2 separate regions of the Homo sapiens genome follow, and region 2 is linked to region 1. A link means that fine-mapping ties the variant in region 1 to the expression of a gene that starts in the linked region. Tissue or cell type: whole blood. Region 1 holds a variant in brackets; the other region holds the start of a gene. All regions are shown on one strand. Distances are from middle to middle.

Region 1 (2,850 bases):
TTATGGATAGTCATCCATATAGAGGCCTACCTCATTCTTTCCTTTATAGATGTCTTACAGTCCTGTTCCTTACTGATGAAGGTGCCCCTTACATCTAGGGCTTTATATATATAGGGCACCTTCATCAGTAGGGCTCAAGCAATCCTCCCATTTTGGCCTCCTGAAGTGCTGGGATTAAAGGCTTGAGCCACCATGCCCAGCCTATTTATATTTTAAAATTTTAAACTAGTTTGTTTTCCCCATTACAATAATTCCTATCTGATAGGGTACTTTTATAAATCTCAAATATATAGAAAATATAGGGCATATTAAAAAATATTTCACTTGAGTTCTTTCTGAGGCAGAGTCTAATTAAAATCTATTTTTAAAAAATATTCAGGACAAGCCAGAGTTGAGAAAATATCTAATAATAGCTGTCACTATTAAGAACATCTTTTATATAAATTCATTTACAGATATTTATTAAGCATTTTCTATGGGTAAGGCACTATTCTAGAAACTGGTGACGGTGCGATAAACAAGACAAACAAGGTTCATGCCCCTCATGGATAATAAAAAACTAGACAACTTCAGATAATAATAAACGCAGTGAGGAAAATGGTGACTTATGCTGGGCTAGTAGGGGGTGGGCAAGAAAGGCCTTTGTGAGAAGACATTTGAGCTGCAGTGTACATACATGAGTCAATTTCATCCTCACACCAACCCTGTGATGTAAGTACTATTATACCTATTTTACAAGGGAAGAAATTGGGGCTGGGAGACTTTAAAGAGCTAGCCTAACATTTCTTAGCTAGCATGCGGCAAAGAAGAAATTTAGACTCAGTTTAGACTAACTCAAACATTTAACATTTATGGAGTTTGCACACCAAGGTAGATGTTTCACATACCCTTAGCTCAGTTAGTTGTCATACCAACCCTAGGTGTTAATGTCCCTAATTTACAGACATGAAAACAAAGACTCAGAGAATTTAATTTACTTACCCAAGGTTACAGTGCTAGTAAGGATGTAAATCCAAGGCTAACTGCAAATCCCATGTTCTTTCATTTCCATTTCACTTGAGCTTTATGCATGGGTATTATGATACCTCTGACAAAGAGGCCTTTTTGACTCATTGGGGCTCACTGCCAAATTTTGGACTGGTGATACACTGAGTGATCGTGAAGTGACGATTGTCACTGTCTAATTCTGTAGAGTACACCTGCCTCATGGCAGTAAAGGAACCCCTGGGGGGCCTTTCCCCCTACTTACTCATCTCTTTTCCACCTTCCCAGGTGCCTTCATCAACTGTGGAGTACCTCAAGAAACATGGCATTGATGTGCGGGTCCTCCAGACAGAGCAGGCAGTGAAGGAGTATAATGCCTTGGTTGCCCAAGGGGTCAGGGTGGGAGGTGTCTTCCATTCCACCTGCTGATGGAGCCTTAAGAGGAG[A/G]ATAAATCACTAAGTGCCTATGCCTGTGACTGTCACTCACCATTCTCCAAACCAGCCTCCCCTAAACATTTTTGGACACCTACTCATGCCAGGTCCTGTGCTAGGCTCTTGGGATGCAGGGATGACCAAGACAAGGTCCCTGTCCTTGAGGGTGCTAAAAGAAAAAAAGATGAGACAGAAGTTTAATAATATAGTGAATGAACTGAGGGAACATCTGAGTAACAGGAACAGTAGGAGTATGCCCTGGGAGTTGGGTTCTAGACAGGCTGTTCTACTAACCAACCCTGAGACTGGAGCCAGATTGTTCTCTCTGGGCTTCAAATTTCAACTATAGGCCAGGCGCCATGGCTCACGCCTGTAATCCCAACACTTTGGGAGGCCGAGGTGGGCAGATCACTTGAGGTCAGGAGTTCAACCCCAGCCTAGCCAACATGGTGAAACCCCATCTCTATTAAAACTACAAAAATTAGCTGGGCATGGTGGCACGAGCCTGTAATCCCAGCTACTTGGGAGGCTAAGGCAGCAGGAGGATCACTTGAACCCAAGAGGTAGAGGTTGCGGTGAGCCGAAATGGTGCCACTGCACTCCAGCCTGGGTGACAGTGAGAGACTCCGTTTCAAAAAAGAAAAAATTCAAGTATAAAATGTTGGGGCTGGCTAGATGCCCTTTAAAGGTTCCTACTGGCTCAGATAGTCTTTGTTCTATTAAATACCGAGGTGGCCTTTGTGAAGCCTTAGAATAGACTGAGAGAACTACAAGCTATCAGCATCACCTTATTTTTAATTTTTCTTTCTTTTTAAAGAACTATGGGCTTTGGTGTCAAATAGCCTTGACTTTGAACTGCAGCTCACTGCCACTCACTGGTTGGGTATTTGTCTAATTTCTTAGTTTCACTGTTCTCATCTGTCAGATCAGGATAACATTAGCAGTACCTGGAGTCATTGTAGGTATTAAATGAGGCAATTCATAGAAAGTATTAACTCACTGCATGGCATTTAGTAAGGACTCAATACATTAAACCACTGTTGTCCTTATCTTTCTATTAATGGGGATACTGTGTAAAGCCAACTAGTTTCATTTTATGGTTCTTAATATAGCAGCTTATTATTTCAAAGAGCCATAGAATGTTGGAGCCCAAAGGAACTATCTCACTCATTTATTCAGTAATTCTCTTTCATATCCATTTACGGACAGCCTATTACTAATTTTCTTATGACCAGTTATTGTTGGGCCCTGGGGGAATAAGGATGAATGTTACAATTCCTGCCTTTGGGAATTATGTTGTATGAGAGAAAGACAAATAAGTAAACAATAATGATACAATGTTAATATTATAATAGTTACTAGGTCCAGTGGTGGCACAAAGAAAAGACTAATTTATCCCACTAGGATGGAAGGAAAATTAAGGAAGACATCACTA
Region 2 (2,500 bases), 51 kb before region 1:
CTGCCAAGATGAAGGGGGAAGGGATTGGAAAAGTGGGGAGATGCTCGCCTATTATTTTGGGGGAGGTGGGGAGAGGAAGGAGAACTATGGAGGAGGAATTAACCCTCTCCTCTCCACAGTGGAGCTGAACCGACTTCGCCCCCCTACCGAGAATGGAGAAGAACCCCCTCCCGTGGGGGAGGAGCAGACCTCCCCACTTCAAGGAAGGAGTTTTAGGGGTTAAAGCAGCCCTCGAGGGGAAGGGAAAAGGGACAAATCTCTCAGGGGAGTTCCCAACAGAGGGAGGGAGAGTTGAGTGTCCGCTGGCCCCCGCCCACCCAGGTGAAGGGAGATAAGGAGGTGTCCGGAGCAGCCGAGCCCAGCCTTCCCCGAGATGGTCGGGAAGACTGGTGGGAGGAGGGGAGGGAGTAAGGGTGGGGAGGAGGAGAAAAGCGCAAAGCTGGCCGGAACCTGCGCTCCCCTTCCCCCGCCGCCAAGGGGGAGACGGGGTGGGGGGCCGCCCTCCGCCGCGGAGAAGCAGTCCCCGGGGCTGCCGACCGGCACAATGACCCCTCCCCGCCTCCAGCCCACACCTAGCCCGCAACGCCTCCACCTCAGCTCCCCGCCCGGCCGAGTGGCCCTAGGGGGCCTCCGCCCCGCCTCCCCACTGCCCAAGACCCCGGGGGCTGGGCGGAGAAGACCAGCCCGGCGGAGTTGCGTCCCAGGGGGAAGACAGAGCCGCGGAGGCCCGAGCCGCGAAGAACCGGGGCGCCTGTGAAGAGCGGAGAGTAGCAGAGCGCCAGGGCCGCTTCCCGCCGGGCGTTCGGGCCCCTCGCTTACCTTCTCCGTTGCCGACGTCCGGCGGCGGCGCCTGCAGCACCCGCTCCAGCTCAGGGAACGGCAACTCAGGCAGGTCTAGCAGCGGCCCGTAGCGCTCCAAGAAGGAGCAGACTACGGCGAAGTTGGGGCACGAACCCGGGCAGCCCGGAGGAGCCATCACCGCCGCCGCTGCCGCCGCCGTCGCCATTTTGAACTGGAGGATGGAGGAGGAGGCGATGGGGGGGCGGGGGAAGTTGTGGTGCCGAGGGATGGCAAGGCAACCTTACAGACGACAGGAGGCGCTCTCAAGTGGGCTCCTCTGCGGATCCCAGCGTCTCAGGGACGGCTCCGCGATCCCACAATACATCGGCGGCCCGGAGCAGTCGAGAACCGAGTCAGACGGGAGACAGAGCGGCCCTCGGCGCCTTTCACTTTCCGCCCTCTTTCCGCCCCCTTCTCTCCTCCCCTTCGGGCTTGCCACTGCCTCGTGTGACAGGGGGAATGAAAACAAGGGAAGCGGGGCGGGGAGGCGGGCTGGAAGCGGGAGGGGCGGGACTTCTCGAGAACAATGGCCAATGGACGCAGAGGGGGCGGGGCCTCGGGCGCTGTTCAACTGCAGGGCGTATTCCCGGAGGGCAGTTGGGGAGCGCAGATCCCGAAGCAGCGCTGGGAGCGTAAGTGCGGGCAGAGCACTGCGCCGTTTGGGAACGCAACTTTGAGGAGACAGTGCGGTGGGTGAGTTTGCGGGGGAATCCTGAAACTGGGCCACGAGATGGTGGAGAGGTTGAGGAGAATTAATAAACAGAAAAAGGGAATAGGGCGGGGGAAAGCACAGTTGTGGGAGAAGGTTGGGAAGGGGAAAGGTAGAGGTGTGCCCTTAATTAGGGGCTGGGCTGGGACCTCGGTAAGATGTCTCTGTGGAAGTTTGCCGACGGGGTATTGCTCTCTGCTGGGGTACAGGAATCGCAGCTTTGCTGGAAAAGCAGGATCTGAGGGAACGGAACTCTGGGGGAATCGTCGGAGTGAGGAGTTGGGGCCCTGCTGGGAGAAGAGGATCTGAGGAGACCAGGCTCTGCTAGGGGGCCATGGTGTGAGGGGAAGGGGCTCTGTTCAGGGACCAGAATCGGAGTGTGGGCTGGGACTCCATTGAGAGGCGGAACATGACAGGAGACGGTGGAGCAGCGAAAAGTTTGTTAGAAGACAGGGTTCCACTTCGGGGCGGGGCGGGGGCAGTGAACATTCCCACAAAGAACGCCAGAGAGAAACTACCAATAATGTAAAATAGAATGTGCAGCCTGAGAAGCAGCAGTACACGTTATGCTTAGAAGCCTGAGCTTTGGATTCAGCCAGGCCTGAGTCCTAGCGGGGCTACTTCATGACACTGTGGAGGTTTCTTTATTTCTTTGAACTCCTTAGAGTGGGGTGATAATAGTACCTACATCATACGGTATTACTAGATAAATCACAGTAAAGTGATTAGCACAGTGCCGTAGCACATAGTGAGTACTTTAAAAATATTAGTTATCAAAAAAGGAGTTCCTATAATTTAGACTGAATTCCGCTATATTTATTTAGTCTATAATTTATTACTTTGAGAATTTTCTGAGTGCATTTAAAACTCAATGTAGTACCTAATTCCTAAAAAGAATTTGGCCGGGCGCGGTGGCTCATGCCTGTAATCCCAACACTTTGGGAAACCGAG

Evidence for each region. PIP is the estimated chance that this variant, and not a neighbour inherited with it, causes the effect.
Region 2: AAMDC starts here. The variant in region 1 is fine-mapped to the expression of AAMDC in whole blood (TOPMed, PIP above 0.99).

The regions. Positions count from the first base shown.
Region 1 is chr11:77,870,903-77,873,752 of GRCh38, forward strand. It overlaps AAMDC (adipogenesis associated Mth938 domain containing), which reads left to right. Exons shown (of 4, transcript NM_024684.4): 4 at 1,273-1,450. The coding sequence ends at 1,413. It also overlaps a transcript of RSF1 not described here. Among named protein-coding and RNA genes, the nearest start is that of AAMDC, 51 kb to the left of the region's middle. The variant A/G (reference allele first, on the strand shown) is at 1,431.
Region 2 is chr11:77,819,709-77,822,208 of GRCh38, forward strand. It overlaps AAMDC (adipogenesis associated Mth938 domain containing), which reads left to right and starts at 1,436. Exons shown (of 4, transcript NM_024684.4): 1 at 1,436-1,533. It overlaps RSF1 (remodeling and spacing factor 1), which reads right to left and starts at 1,014. Exons shown (of 16, transcript NM_016578.4): 1 at 820-1,014. The coding sequence starts at 1,006. RefSeq lists enhancers at 1-368, 369-1,341, 894-1,063, 1,074-1,213 and silencers at 404-493, 634-723, 1,314-1,473.